Linked DNA regions of Homo sapiens: region 1 is linked to region 2. Evidence: fine-mapped expression QTL. Tissue or cell type: whole blood. Region 2 holds a variant in brackets; the other region holds the start of a gene. All regions are shown on one strand. Distances are from middle to middle.

The links. PIP is the estimated chance that this variant, and not a neighbour inherited with it, causes the effect.
Region 1: it holds the start of RBM22, and the variant in region 2 is fine-mapped to the expression of RBM22 in whole blood (TOPMed, PIP above 0.99).

The regions. Positions count from the first base shown.
Region 1 is chr5:150,696,636-150,704,723 of GRCh38, reverse strand. RBM22 (RNA binding motif protein 22) reads left to right here and starts at 3,662. Exons shown (of 11, transcript NM_018047.3): 1 at 3,662-3,792; 2 at 4,227-4,280; 3 at 5,453-5,482; 4 at 6,093-6,225; 5 at 7,833-7,933; 6 at 8,019-8,088. The coding sequence starts at 3,739. RefSeq lists enhancers at 2,867-3,643, 3,644-4,420.
Region 2 is chr5:150,655,842-150,663,930 of GRCh38, reverse strand. It overlaps SYNPO (synaptopodin), which reads right to left. Exons shown (of 3, transcript NM_007286.6): 3 at 4,724-7,527. The coding sequence ends at 6,844. It overlaps MYOZ3 (myozenin 3), which reads right to left and starts at 2,680. Exons shown (of 7, transcript NM_001122853.3): 1 at 2,504-2,680; 2 at 929-990. The coding sequence starts at 989. RefSeq lists silencers at 7,130-7,189, 7,330-7,549. The variant A/C (reference allele first, on the strand shown) is at 3,877.

The sequences.
Region 1 (8,088 bases), 41 kb before region 2:
AGTTAATTTTCAGTGAATCTTAAGAGGGCAAAGGGGAACTTTTCTGTTGGCCCCTACAATGTTAAAAAATCTGGTGGAAAACATGGAGCCAGGTGCCATGGCTCACACTTGTAATCCCAGCACTTTGGGAGGCCAAGGCTGGAGAATCACTTGAGCCCAGGAGTTCCGAGACCAGCTTGGGCAACATGGTGAGACCCTGTCTCTACAAAAAAGTTAAAAATTAGCTGGGCACCGTGGCCTGCTTCTATAGTCACAGCTACTTGGGAGGCTAAGGCTGGAGGATCCCTTGAACCCAAGAATTCCAGGTAACAGTGAGCTATGATCATGCCTGGGTGACAAAGTGAGACCCCCATCTCGAAAAAAAAGAAAAGGAAAATATGGATTATATATATTGTGAAAGGAAATTAAATCTTGGGACCCCAAACTCATTAAGCCAAAGGGAAAAGTCGAGCTGGGAACTGGGTCACACAAACCTGCCTCCTGCTTTTGGTTCCTAAATAAGATGGCTATAAGATGAAAAGCTACATGCCTCCCCCATATGTTGCCCAGTAATTCAGACCCTTCCATTAAACCAGCAAACCTTTTTCATTTACAATCTCATTGGACATGTTTGGTATTCCAGTGCTATGATCACTTAGCTTCAATCTTTGTACCACAGATAGGTATCGAAGATGTTATATGGCATATAGAGGCCATAACGAATTACACCCAAAGGCCCTAAATGGTAGCTGCATGAGTACCTCTTTGCTAAGCAATGAGGTCATGCTTATGAGGAAAGCTGTGTTGCAAAACTATGTGGCTTTAGATATACTCATGGCAGCACAAGGGGAACCTGTGCCACCGTAAAAACTGAATGTTGTGTGTATATTCCAGATGAATCAAAGAACATAAACTGAATTATGACCAGTATGAAAACCCAGATAAGCAACTGTCAGATCCAAAACCCTCACTAATCCATTGCTTGAGTGGTTGGTTTGGATCCTGGGGAATTTAGTGGCAGAAGCTATTGCTTATAATAGAAGGAATAATTTATGTTCTGTCCTGTTTCTGCTTACAATGTTGTTATAGTACGTGTTTGCAAATAAGTCAATATGCAACCGAAAGGGCTAAGGTAATGATTGCCCAGAGAATTGCTTTAATTGAGGAGGCAGTAATATAATAAAGCTTGACCCAGCTTCCAGGTTTGCTTTCCTTTTGTTGCTATAAATCTGGCCTAGTCCCTATATATATTTTTTCATCTCTTTTCTTTTTTCCTTTCTAGGAAAGTAAAATTCCTCACTAGGAATTTCCTTGTGGGCAAAATATGGGGGAGGCATGTAGCTTTCCATCTTGTAGCCATCTTATTTAGGAACCAAAAGCGGGAGGCAGGTTTGTGTGACCCACTTCCCAGCTTGACTTTTCCCTTTGGCTTAATGAGTCTGGGGTCCCAAGATTTAATTTCCTTTCACATTTCCCCCTTTTTTTCTTTAACATCTTTTGGAGAAAGCATTTTAAAAGGAATATGTGTTCCTGGCCTCAGTTCGCTTTTTCCTCCTTTTTTGAGCTGGTTTCTTGTCGCTAGGATGGTTTATTCCAGGAAATTCAGGTCTCACGTTACTAGGAAGGCTCATTCCTAGGAAGTCATGTTCCATGTTGCTAGGAAGGCTCATTCCTAGAAGTCATGTCCCACAAAGATTAAAAAATAAATTGGGGGAGGAAAGAGGGAAAAAGGAAGGAAAGGAGATGATTCTGAGGGCTCCAGACTTAAAGGAGAAAAGGGTCCTATCTCTTTTCTCTTAATGTTAAATGTTATTTTGTTTGTGGAATGTTCACTCTATAATATATATGTTGATTAAGTATACCATTATGCATGATTTGCAATATTGATTGACCTGTGGAGTGCCTTGAGCCTGTGTGTCCAAGACTCTGAGTGCTGAGTGAGTGGGAAGTACTAAGGAGAATTGCTTTCTTGGAAACTCCATGTAGTTCGTGGCTTTTGTGATTGAAATAGCATCAGTAAAAGTCTGGCATTGTGGAAAAACACAAATGTACGTGGACTCTGTTATTTCTGACCTTGCACTCCTCACAAGGCATGTGAAATTGGAGTCACAGATGTAGAAACCAGGCAGAAGACAGTCTGAAGAGATGATACTTGAGAATTTTCCAAATATAATAAAAGACAACAAATCACAGATCCAAGAAGCTCAGATAAACCCAAGGACTTTCTTATAAAGGAAAAGATATACTTACCATATGATCAAATAATCTCACTCTAAGGCATTTACACAAGCAAAATGAAAACCAATGTCCATACAACGATCTGTATGTGAATGTTTATAATGGTTTTATTTATATTCACTAAAATCTGGGAACAACCCAAATATCCAGCAACTGGCAAGTGAATTGTATGATATATCCATACAATGGAATTCTACTCAGTAATACAAAGGAAGAAATTATTGATACATGTAATAATATGGATGAATCTCAACTACAAAATACTAAGTGAAAAAATATCAGATCCAAAAGGATATATAGGATTCCACTTATGTGACATTCTGGAAAAGGCAAAACTAGGGACAGAACACAAATTAGTGATTGCCATGGTTTGAGTATGGGATAAGTGGACTAACTACAGAAACAAGGGAACTTTGGGGATGACAGACAATTCCATATTTGACTGTAAGTGAATGTATGTACAAAATTCAAAACTAAAAAGGATAAAACTTTATGTAAATTATACTTTAAATCAACTTTTTTTTTTAATGAGGTGATTTAAATAAATGTGTTAGGTAGCTTGATGACACGGTAAGTATGAAAGTGGTACCAGAATGGCTTGAAACTCATAAAATATTGGCAGAGTGGTTATGAGTTATTCCAAAAATCAAATAATGCATATGTTGATTCGTAAGACCCTTGTCATTTCAGAAGCTGGAAATGAAACAGTACTAATGAATTTGTGGCTTCACCACTTTTTAGCTCCACAACCAGGAGCTATATCAGGAGAGATTAGGTTAATCTCTCTAAACCTGTTTTCTTTTCTATAAAAGAGGGATCATCATACTTGCCTACAGGGTAGAGTTACCAGATAAAATACAGGACGATTGGTTAAGTGATGTGAATTTCAGGTCAACCACGAATCCTACTTTAGGACGAGTAGGTACCATATATATTTATAATTAAAAAGCGATTCGCCGTTAATCTGAAATTCAACTTTAGACGTTCTGTAATTCGTGCGTGTGTGTGTGTGCATGTGTGTGTGTGAGTGACAGAGAGAGAGAGAGAGAGAGAGAGAGAGAGAGAGAGACAGAATCAGAATCTGGCAGCCCTACAGAGAGCCCTACAGAGAGGTTATGCGAATAAATAAGACACTGGAACCGCAAGACGTTCGCCCAGAGTTTGGCATAATAAGCGCCTCAGTGGTAGCGAACGCTATTTTAACCCCAGCCTCTGATGCATTACGTCTTCCTTTATTCTTTCGCCCAATTGTTAAATGAATCAACTGTACGTGTGGCCCTTCATTCCAAGCAGGCAAAAACTCGAAGGAAGCATCCAGGTGCATTATACCAGGACCCCAATTGTTAAGCTTAGAAATTCCAAGAGCGGGCGACGTCATGACGCAAAGGCCCCGCCCCGGAAGAAGCCCTAGACGCGTAAATAAGACGCCGACCGGCGCGGCGCTAGCCTCGGGGCTTGACGGGATTGTGGCGGTCCTCTCTCCCAATTCGGAAGCTACAGCTACCTCCGGACGCTCTCAAGATGGCGACCTCTCTGGGTTCCAACACCTACAACAGGCAGAACTGGGAGGATGCGGTGAGTGTGCCTGCCGGAGGAGGATGGAAGGAGGAGGCGAAGCCGCGCACCTTGCAAGCTGGCAGGACAGGGCCTGCGGCGCGGCCGAAGGAATACCGGGGAGGAGCCAGCGCGGCGGCCTAGCTTGGCCGGAGCAGGAGGGCGGAGGGCGATCCTCCTGCGGGCTTGAAGGGAGGGGGCTTAGCCAGGGTCCCGGGACCAGCACCCTTTCCATCCCTGCCCCCTCCAGCCTATTAGAGCTGGTTTTCTTTTCTCCCGCCGCCTGCCGGAAGTGCAGACAGCGCCCCCTCCCGCGATCGGGTCGTGATGGACTTCGGGTTCCTGCCGTGCCTAGTTCCCCACCCTCGCTTCCCGCCCCCTCGCCACCCCAAGTGTCACTGAGGTGTCAGGGTCTTCGGAGGGTGGTCCTCAACCAGATTTCCCATTTTCACCAGGACTTCCCCATTCTGTGCCAGACATGTCTTGGAGAAAACCCATATATCCGAATGGTGAGTGATCGCGTGTGAAACGAGTTATTCATGTCCTGTCGATGTTGTGGTACTTGCACACTGTGAAGTGTTTCTCTTAGACAAGCAGAAAAAATGATGCTCTTTTACTAACGCGAAGTGCTGGACGACTTGCAAAGAACTGTCATGTGTATTCTCTTACGAATCCGGTAACACTCCTGTAATGTAGGGGTAATAACGATAGCTAGTATTTGTTGAGCATTTACCTAGGAAATAGGTCTGTTGACCAGAAGGTGAGAGCGTTTGTGTCTTTTCATACAATAGTAAGGAATGGAGCTGGGATTTAAGTTCACATATTCTGGCTCTAGGAATGTCAGCATGATAGGAGGAGAACCAGAACTAGAAACTAGGTTTCCTGAATCCTGGTCAAATGCCTTTTGGCCAGTGTACTTTATCTCTTTAAAGTAAGCATTCCCCCTTTGTTACAAACTAGGGTAAAATTAGAACCAGTTAACAATAATAAGGTTAGGGCTGTATTATTGTGTAGTCGTAGAGGTGTTGATATGTTAGTATGTTCACGATGTTTGAATGGTTCAAGATGTTTGAATAGTTCTGTTTAAACAGAACATTTACTATATTCCGGGCATTGGCACAGGACAAGTCTACAGTAGCTACCTTTTGACTAAACTTTGTAAAGTGGGCGGGCCACAGCTGTATCCTCTCTGATTTAGGGATTGTGGAAAGCATTAGGAATGTTAGTTCTTGGGAGTGAACTTGGGAGCCAAAAATGAACCTAAGAGTTGTGGCTGTGGAAAGACACTCACTTACCTAGCATTAGATGCATATACTCTATTTCTTTTTTCTGTAGAGACAGCATCTCGCTATGTTGCCCAGGCTAGTCTGGAACTCCTGGGCTCAAGCAATCCTTCCACCTTGGCCTCTCAAAGTGTTGGGATTACAGGCGTGAGCCACTGCCACCCAGCCCAGATCCATATACTCTTGAGATGTTATCACTTATAATATGTTGTTATAGTATGTTCCCTACCCTCTTCCCAAAAAAGGTTGGGTTTTGGGTTTTGTTGTTGCTGTTTTTCTCTCTCTAGGATGCCAGGGATTTCCAGACACATTTCTTGGGTTATGTTTAAGGAAAGAGTAGACATCTGGCTTTTTTCTTTCTGTAACTCCAGTTCTTTTCTATTTTTTTTCTATTATAGACCAAAGAAAAGTATGGGAAGGAATGCAAAGTAAGTATGTCTGTTAAAGAGTAATGATTTCTGTTTCATTTTTCTTTTCTCTACCAAATTAGCCTTCAGCTTACTAAGTTTTGAGGTCTTCCAGTAAAAATCAGTGCTATACAACTTTTTATGTATTACTGATATATTCATTGGCTGGCAACTGTTTATGTGGGAGGTAAGAAAATGAACCCTCTAATGTAGAGATTCTTACGGTGTCAGTGGATGGGCACTGGAGGAGTTTGTACACCAGGTGGTGTATGACTGTCCACTCGAGCATTTTAGCTGAGGAGGAAGGTCATTCTTGTCAGAAGCTTCTCAAAAAATTACATGACACTCCCCACTCCCCCTAAAAAAGATTAAGGTTCAGATTATTATTGGTGCTTAGCTCTAGGATGGGAAGAACTTTGACCCTTTGGCTATTTCATTTCTGTACTCTGAATTTTTGCTGGAGAAGGATGCTGAAAATTGTATTGAAACATCAAATCAACTAGATGATTGCTAAGGTCTCTTCTAAATCCTACATTCAGGGATCCTTTTTTGAATGCCCCGTTGTTATCAGATCTCCAGATTGCCCAGATCAGGACCATTGACATTCTATGGCTCTTGCTTTGTGTTCCAGATCTGTGCCAGGCCATTCACAGTGTTTCGCTGGTGCCCTGGAGTCCGCATGCGTTTCAAGAAGACTGAAGTGTGCCAAACCTGCAGTAAATTGAAGAATGTCTGTCAGACCTGCCTCTTAGACCTAGAGTATGGTATGTTTGACCTGTCCAATAAATCTGAAAGTGTGCAGGTGCCTAAAACTACAAGTCAGTCTTTTGTCTCCCACTTCGCACCCTAGCTCTGGTTCTGATTTCACTTTGGAATGTCTGCCGTGGTCTGCTTTTCCCAGGAAAAGAACCATAATTAGGCCACTCTAGAGTCCTGAACAATAGTAGGAACTTAAGGAAAAGTTGGGAATTAATCAAAAGTGGCCTAAACCTTCATCTCTGTAGCCCAAGTGAGGTAAAAGGCGTTGATCCTATGATAGATAATTTATTTGCCTTAGGCTTCTTTCTTGATCCAGAGCTTTTTTCCACCATCCCAATCAGAAGCTCACAGGGTAATTGTGCTTTATTTTATTTTATTTTTTGAGTTAGGGTCTCACTCTGACACCCAGGCTAGAGTACAGTGGTGTGATCACAGCTCACTGCAACTTCGAACTCCTGGGCTCAAGGGATCCTCTTGCCTCTGCCTCCTGGTATACCACCACACCCAGTGCACGTGTGTGTGTGTGTCACTATTTTGCCCAGGCTGGTTTTGAGCTTCTGGCCTCAAGCAGTCCTCCCACCTTGGCCTCCCAGAGCCACTATAGCCAGCCTAATTGTGCTTTAGACTTTTATTTCAATTGTGTTGTTAGAACTGATATATTGCTACTGTTTCAGAGTAACTGCTTTTGGGAGTAATTTTTTTTTTAACCATAGGTGACTGTTTTTCAGAAAGATAATTTTTCAACAAGAGTTTTTACTATTAAAGGAAAGGGAAAAATATATGAGTTTATGTATGTTAAGTTCATTAGAGTTACTCTTCTAGTCAGAGTCCTGGCCACATTTTATGTAATATTATTTATATGTTTGTTAAGGAGGCGTCTGGTCCTGGAGTACAGTGACCCTTAGATGACTGTGACTATCCAGAGGATCTGTAAGACTAACCTAGAAAGAAACCACTTTTACATTTACTTTAAATAAATCATGTTGTAATAAAAACTAGGAGCTAATTTACAGGTTGAATATGACCATGGGCACAGTTTGTTCATCTAAAAATTTTCTTTTATAATTTTTTTGTTTTTTGTTTTTGAGACAGGGTGTCACTCTGTTGCCCAGGCTGGAGTGCAGTGGCATGGTCATGGCTCACTGCAGCCTTAACCTTTCCAAGCTCAGGTGATCCACCTCAGCCTCCTGGGTAGCTAGGACTACAGGTGCATACCACCACACCCAGCTAATTTTTGTATTTTTTGTAGAAATGGGGTTTCACCACGTTGACCAGGCTGGTCTCGAACTCCTGGACTCAAGCTATCTGTCAGCTCCAGCCTTGCAAAGTGCTAGGATTACAGGCATGAGCCACCACACCCAGCCTAAAAGATTTTTTCTAAAGCATTAATTTCATCAAATTTCCTGACAGTTCAGGAATTTGGACAATTTCTTAGCATGCTGTGTAGCAGAAGTAACCTGATGGTGCTAAAGAGTTTGAATAAAAACATAGTAAAGTCTCTGGTACTAAATAGGAAAGAGGAGAAGGGAAAGATGATGTATTCTGTGTGCATGGTTAGTATGGATATGTTTTAAAATACATCTGAGGTCTTTTTCCTCTTTTTTTGTACCAGGCCTGCCCATCCAGGTTCGTGACGCAGGATTGTCTTTTAAAGATGACATGCCAAAGTCAGATGTCAACAAAGAGTACTATACACAGAATATGGAGAGAGAGGTATGCTGCCACTTTTTGGATAAAAATCCTAATGAATTGACACAGTCTGTATAATTTATCTTTTGAATTTGTCATCCCCACTTAGATTTCTAACTCTGATGGAACACGGCCAGTTGGCATGCTGGGGAAAGCCACATCTACCAGTGACATGCTGC
Region 2 (8,089 bases):
GCCTCCAACTCCTAGGCTCAAACGATCCTCTTGCCTCAGCCTCCTGAGTAGCTGGGACCACAGGCATGTGCCACCATGCCTGGCTAATTTTTTTTTTTTGTAGAGATGGAGTCTCACCATGTTGCCCCGGCTGGTCTCAAACTCCTGGGCTCAAGCAATTCTTCCACCTCAGCCTCCCAAAGTGCTGGGATTAAAGGCATCAGCCTCTGTGTCCAGCCCCTAAATTAATTTTTAAAATACCTGAAATCCTCTAAAGTAGACCAAATAAACAGATTCCAAAATTGTATCAAGAGTTCCTCAAGAGGTCTTCTAAAATTGATAAAAATGAATTTAAACTTTTTTAATGAAATGATAAAAATGATTTACTCATTTGATGAATCAGCTTTAAGTAGAAAGTTTTGTATTCAAATGGGCAGCCTGCTCTTCCCACCCTGCTCCACTCTCTCGACTCCCCTGTCTTCCCACCCTACTCCACTCTCTCCACTCCCCTCTCTTAGCCATGGGGCCCAGCCATCCTGGGCCACCCAGAGGCCTCGGTGAGACCCACAGGAGTAATAGGCAAAGGCAAGTGTGTGCAGAGCTTGCAGCCACAGGTAGGGCTGGAGTTGGGACCAGAGTCTTCAGAGCTTAATTTGGGGCTGAGGTGAGGCCTTAGATGAAGCCAGGGCCAGGGTCATTTTAGAGCCAAGGCCCAGCCTGGGACACTCAGCCTCAGCTCCTGGGTCTGTGGACAGATGGGCAAGACCCCTCCCAGTGCCTCAGGGAAGCTTCCCAGCCTAGGCAGCAAATTCTACAGGCACTCCCTCAGAGCTGGCCTGGAGCTCACACCTGTCTGCCCAGGCCTGGGGCCAGCAGGCCAGAGTGAGTGCAGCCTGGGAGCAAGGAAATGATGGAGTCTGAGGAAGGCATGAGGCTAGAACCACCTTACCTGGTTCAGTGAGGTCCCCCATGGCAGCCATCACTGGCCCCTTCTGCTCCTTGGGGATCATCCTGTGGAGGAGAGACCCCCATAAATGGACCAGGCTGCCTCCATTTCTCCCCAGACCTCCTTCCAGTCTCTGGTTCACCCTGCCCCAGTCCTGAACAGCTTTAGGCCAGCCCCAAATCACAAGCAAGGGATGTCTGAGCTGGAAGGGACTTCAGGGTCTCCGTGCAGAGGAGACTGAGGCCCAGGGAACGAGAGGGAGGTGCTCAAGTTTGCACGAATCTATTTTCATGTTGCTAGGGAAGCACTGTCTCTTCAGGGGTGGTTTCTAGGGCCTTTTCCCAGCTCTGGCATCCTGATCAGAGGGAGAGTAGGTGCCAGGGGCATCCGGGTGGGGCAGGCAAAGGTCTCAGGCACTACTGTCATCGGTTGACCCAGGAGAGTCCTAGTCCAAGGCTGAAAGAAGTTGGAGGTTTAAGTTAGGGGAAGGGGGAGGATGGACTAGGTTGGGGTTACACTGGGGTCTGCAAGGCTGGTGAGCCCCTTTCATCCTTGGCACTTGGCCCTGACGCTTGAGGGCACAGGCTGGTCCAACCAAGCAGAGAGAACCATCCCCCGTCCTCCCCATCTCCCCGCTACTGGGCTAACTTCCGTGGTGTTCTCTTCTCCCTCGTCCCTTCTCTTCCTCCTGTTCCATCCCCCTATTTGTATCTCATGGCACTTTCAAAGAATCTTGGAAGAGATTTGCAAATAAAATGAGGTCCAGAGCCCTTAACTTGCCCAGGTACCTTAACTTGCCCTCTGGAGAAGAGGCAGAGCCCTTGAGCTCCTCGACTGACCACCCACCTGGGTACCCTTCTCCTTTGCCTCCAGGTTTTCCTATACTCCTTCCTTTAGAAAACAATCTGCCTTCATCTGTATCCCCAACACCGACAAGGGGCCCTGGGAGTCAGTGGGCACTGCATTGTGCAACTGGAGTCTAGTGGGTGTCCCTGGCTTTCTCTGTAACTGCGAACAAGTAGCTTTCCAGCTCTGCACCTCAGTTCCCCCATCTGTAACAGTAGGGGGTTAGGCTAAATCACAGAGATCCATGGATGGGCTTTAGGGTGTTCACAAACCCCCTAAAACTATACGTAAACATGAGTGTGTCTACATGCATTTGGGGTGAGGGTCATGGGATGATTGAGAATGCCTCGATCACAACCGTTTAGGATTCCACAGTCCACAGATCTGTTTCTTGATAAACACTCCCTTTACAGAAATTCACAGATGCTGGGAAGGGTCTCTCATTTTACAGAGAAGCTGCTTCCCTCTACTGCCTAAAAATCCCAAAGTCCTGAGCAGAGCCATTACCTATTCCCCACCTTTAATCCTAGCCACACCCTCCCCATTTAATGCAGGGTAACCTAGAGCTTAGAGTTCCTCTCCTCCCAAACCAGGATCGAGGCTTGCATGGGGCCCCAAACTCCCTAGATCCACTGCAGGGCCCTTCCTCTCCGGGGGAAGGAGCTCTGGGGATTGGCTCACCTCCTCTGCCCACTCCCCTGAGTTCCCCAAGCTCCCCTAGGATGCTGGTACCTGAGAGGATGGGACCACAATAGGCAGGAGGGAATCTTAGACCCTCAAGATTAACACCTCTGTCGGGAAGCTGAGAGTTGCGTGGCGTCCCTGTAGGCAGTCAGCGGTCAGCAGTCAGTAGGCAGCGAGCAGGGTGTCCCCTGCAGCCAGCTCTGGCTTCAGCTGATGAGAATCATTCCTGCCTTGCCATGGGTCACAGCCTTATTTCGGGCTGCAATAGGAGCTGGAGCCAGAGGCTAAAAGCACCAGACCCTAGGGAAGACAGGTGCCCTGGCAACAGGCCTGTGCAGACAGAGGGCTTGCACCCACGTGTACACACACACTCACATATGCACACACCAAAGTCACCTGGAAATGTTGAGGGTCAGCTGCTGGTAGCTTCCGCTTGTTAACTGTTATATCCTTAGTGCCAAGAATGGTGCTTGATAGGAACTCAGCAGATATTTGTCGAAGGAAGGAATGGATGGATAGATAGATGGATGAATGAATTGCTCCTCAATATCTTTGCTTGACTTATCCTTTTCTTCCTTCCTTTCTTCTCTCCTGCCTTTCTTCTTCTGCCTCCTTCCTGCCTGCCTTCTTTTCTCCCCTCCTCCCTCCCTCCCTCCCTCCCTCTACCTTCTCACATTCCCTGAGCCTCTCTCTAAGGACTGAAAATAAATAAGGCAGGGCTCTGTCTTCAAGGAGCTCAGCCAGGTCAGATTCAGACGGGTAAACAAGCTTTGGGGAAGGCTCTGGGAGAGCCCAGGGGAGGGAGTTACCAGCTCAGCCTGGGGTGGGGGGTGAGAAGGCTTCCCAGAGGAGGACACACTGGAGTTGGGCCTTGAAGGATGAGTGGGAGTTCACTGGGCAGAGAAGGGGCATGGCAGGCAGTGGACATGTCACCTACAAAGATGGGTAGGGGGTTGGCAAGTAGAGCCGGAGCTGGGGGCAGTGCTGAGAGATTAGCCCAGACAGTGGGGGCAGCGGCCAGATCCCAGCAGGCTTTCAAAAGGAAACTGTGTTTATAAAGGGTTGCTGACAAGATTAAAGTGGTGAAATGGAGTGATCGGATTGGCATTTTCCAAAGATATCTTTGCTGCCATGTGGGAAATGGGTTGGAGGGGGCCAGACTGGAGGCAGGAGGACCTGACTGTCACCAGGGGTGGCTGGATCAGGGCAGTGACAAGGAGATGGAGAGGAGAGGGAGTTGAGGGTTATTTGAAGAACCCTTGGGTCTTGGTGAGGAACTGGATGTGGAAGGTGAGGAAAGGGAGTCCCACTCCCCTGTTTCATGCTTGGGTGACTGGAAGGGGAGGAGCAGGAGGGGTGGGGGCAGACACTGAGGTCAGTTTTGGATGAACTTTGAGGTGTCGGGGGACTGGGATGAGATC[A/C]CCAGTAGGCAATGGGACACTGTGCTGCAGTGAGGCCCCAGCCGAAGATAAAGATTGGGTCCAAGGCACACACTCCTGGGGAAGGGTGGGCCTAGCAAGGATGGGCTGGGTGCAGGGTGGGGACCACCGGTGTCTGTGTGCTGGCAGACTATCCTGGGGTGTATTTCTGACACCTCTCAAATCAGAAGCCTAGATTCTGCTGTCCACCACCCTGACCTTAGCTTCCTGGCCCTCGGTGGGCCTGAGCTTCTAGAGAGGAAGAGTGAGGTGTGTTCCCAGGGCAAGCTTAGCCTCACCTGGGAGCAGGATCACAATCCCCTTCTCTGGCCAAAGGACACTCCTGCCAGGAGAGGATGCCTCATGGCCCGAGTCCTTGCCTCACTGGGGCTGCCTGGCTCAGACGGGACCTCTTACAGTGGCGCCTTTCCTGCCCTGGCACCCCCACCTGCCATGAGGAAACAGCCTCAGAGCACAGAGCCCTGACCCAGCTTGGCCCTGCCCACTCTGGTGATAGTGCTCTGTGGTCAGGGCCTGGACAATACCACCCTGAGACATTACCTAGACCCACTCTCCCCATTATACGGATGGGGAAGCTGAGGCCTAGAGAAGGAGTGGGCTCACCCAGGGTCACCCCGCTCGTCCATGACAGGACCAGGACTGCAGTCCAGGTACTTCTATGGCCTCAAGTTGTCCGTTGTTCCCATCTCTCCCCATGGCTGCTTCTTCCCAAGCTCCCATCCCATATGTCTCAAATATTCCCAGCCACCCAGAGTCCCATGGACTGCTCCATGCTTGGGGAGAAGGGAAGGACATCAGACACAGCTGAAAATGACACAGGAGGCAGAAGAATGCAGGAAGCATTTATTGAGGGCCAGAGCTGCATTCTACAAGAGGCAAGAGGCAGGACACAGGCAATCTCTAGTGGGTTAGAGGAGAGGTTGGGGAGAGGGCAGTGACAATGAGAGAACAGCCAGGCGCTGGCTTGGGAACTGCCGGTTTCTCAAGGCTGCCTCCTGCTAGTCCTCTGGGAAATGCAGGTAGAAATGGATCCTCTATGCTACTGCCTCAGCCAGAGGCCTGATGGTGTCCCTTCCCTGGGAGGGGCCCTTAGCCCCAGTCTCCTGTGCTACAAGGGACCCAGCAGCAGGTAGGGGCTTTGGTAAATATAGTCACTCATCATTAACTGAGTAAGAGCACCTTCTCATCTTCACAGCAGCAGGAGCATTCCTGAGGCCCAAGGAGCCCTCTAAGGTCACTCTTTCATTCCAAAGCACCCTGTCCCAACCCTATCTTCCATACTGACCTTAACTCCCTCCAGCCTCACTTGGGGGTTCCAGATCTAACATCACCCCGGTAAGTCCCAAACCCAAACTGTCCCTCACCTTTAGCAACATCCTGGTATCCTTTCACCTACATACGTTTGATCCTCAGCCAATTCCATACCCCCAGCTGATCCTGAAGCTAATATTCTGAACCTCTAGAAGGCTCTACCAGCCAACTCTGGAAACTACAGAACTCAGCCATATTCCTCCCTGAGTCCCCCCTGGGGACCTGAATCACAGCCACCAAGGTTTAGGGAACCAGTGAGGGCCTGCAGCCAGGCTCCCCCAGGTCACTGGGCACCAGGCACTAGCTAGGTCAGAGTGCACTGGGGAAGGGATGGGGCAGGATAATGTCTACTTTTCTGGGCACGATATGGACACTGGGACTGAGGTCTGACACTGAAGAAGGGGACATTTCCAAGGGGACCAGAAATACAGGCAGACCCTAACTTAACACCCTGCTCACGTACCCAAGCTCATCGGCCCCTAAATTCAAGCCCAACTAGCCCACCACCACCACCCACCCCCGACTTCCTAATATCATGGAATGCATTTCAAGACTGGAAGAGCCCTCAGGGGTCATCTGAGCCAATCCTGTCCCCTGCTAGAATCTCCTCTATGCATCCTGGCCATGCTTTTCATATTTCCCGTAACAAGTAACTCTTTGTCTCTCTCTTTCCCAATAAGCAACCCCAAACTGAGGGCAATCAGGTAAAGTCACATGGTAGCTCTGTATCTCTTCTCTCCCCAGTTCAGCTTTGAGCCCAGAACCTGCCATGAATGGGCCCAGAAGGAACAGATGAGCTGGAGGCCCAAGTCCTGGGCCTAAGGGAAATCACTGCCTTATAATTCTCTTATGGCTGCAGATAAGATGTCCTGGACAGTCTGAACTGGGATGGAGAAAGTAGCATGACAGGGACCCGGGGAGAATTTTCCTGCCTCTTCCCTCCAGAGGGGATAGTGGGACACCTTGAGCTGGCCTGGGAGACCTCTCTAAAGGTCATTGTGATAAAAATAGAGCTTGTCTGGGAAGGGATGGAAAACAGCTGCTCCTGCCTGGGACTTGGTGCCAGGGAGCCGGATGGTCAGGCCAGTGCCTGGACATGCGACACAGGCCTAGGACCTTCTGAACACACCCCGCTTGCCAGACTCCAGACAGCAGAGCCAGGAGGGGAGGGACGAGTATGGAACCCTGAAGGTAGCAAGTCCAGGGGTCCATATACACACTGCCCCGCCTCATCCAAGGCACTAACTAGTGTGTGTGTGTGTGTGTGTGTGTGTGTGTGTGTGTGTGTGTGTGAGAGAGAGAGAGAGAGAAAGAGAGAGTGTGTGTGCATCGGTGTGTGTACTGATGGGAAGGGGAATTTTGACGTTTGTGGATTGCCTTGGCCAAAGCCACCATTAAACAGATGGGAAAGCTGAGGGTCAAACAAGGAAGGGTCTTACCCAGGGTCACACAACAGCTGAATGAGAGCAAGGGCTAGAACTCAAGCTTGCGTCCCTAACCCATCCCCAACCCCAGAGCTCTCCTCTGCTGACCCCTCATCTCTGGGGCTGCCCAAAGAGGCCAGACCCTTTGGGTCCCCCAGGTCTAATGAGCCTTCTTCTGGCTCTGCCCTCCCGGGGTGGGGTCGGGGGTGGGGCTCTAGGTGGTGCAGGAGGCCTCGGCGGGGAGGCTGCCACGCTTGAGCCGAAGGCTGCCATTCCACCCGCGGGGACAGATATTGTAGCCCAGGATGCCTGGAGACTTAGCCCCGGAGTCCTCGGAGTCGAGGGACACGTCGGAGTCCGTGGGCGAGCGGCGGTAGAGGAAGGGCCTGGGAGGCGCGGGCAGCGGGCTCCGGGGACTGGTGCAGGACGAAGGACCGGCGGGCAACGGGCTCCGCGGGATGGGCGCGAAGGCTGCCCCCGGCACAGCAGCCGAGCCGGGGCGGGCGGGCTGTGGCGAGCGCATGCGCGGGGGCGGGGGCGGGGGCGGGGGCGGGGGCGGTGGCGCCCTCGGCGGGGAGAAGGGCCGCGGGTTCTCGGCGCCCGCCGACCGCGGGGAGGCGCTCTTGCGCCGGGCCGCATTGATGATGTTTCGCGCCAGAAGCGCCTGCAGCTGGCGGCTGGGGGGCCGCGCCTCGGTCTCAGGTCGCAGCGGGGACACCGAGCGCTCGCTCCACGAGGGAGACATGGGCGGTGGCGGCGGCAGCGGCGGGGGGCTGCTCATGCTGCTCCCGCGACCTGGCTCCCACGGGCCCGGGCTCACCCAGCCGTCTAGGCTGCTGGGGGGCCGGGACGCGCCCGGCGTCCAGGGTGGGGAGGTGGGCAGGCTCTCCCGGCGGTCCTGGGGAGAGAGCAGAGAGGGTGGGGCAGGCATTAGTGCTGAGGTCTTCCACACCGGGCTTTAGGAAGGGACGGAGTCCGATTTGTCCATTACACCGAGAAGGGAAGCCACCGATCCAAGTCAGGTAGTGCCTGCAATAAAACGCAGGCGCCCAAACTCTCAGCCCGGAACGCCTGAAGAGTCCCCGCTGTCTTGTGTCTGCCTCCGTGTTAAGAAGACTCGCTTTGGAGAGAGCCGCCTTAACTTACTAACTGAGCTTGGGCAAGTTACTTCACCCCTCTGGGCTTCAGTTTCTGCTTCTGTAAAATGGGGTGTGATAACAGTACTTAACCTTATAGGGTTGTTGTGAGGGTTAAATGAGATAACTGATGGAAAAGAACATTACATATATCGGCACATTCCTTGGAAGAAAGTGCTCAATAGATGTTGATTACCATAAAGAAATACCAGAAGGGCTTGGCGCGGTGGCCCGCGCCTGTAGTCCCAGCACTTTGGGAGGCCGAGGCGGGTGGATCACCTGAGGTCAGGAGTTCGAGACCAGCCTGGCCAACATGCAGAAACC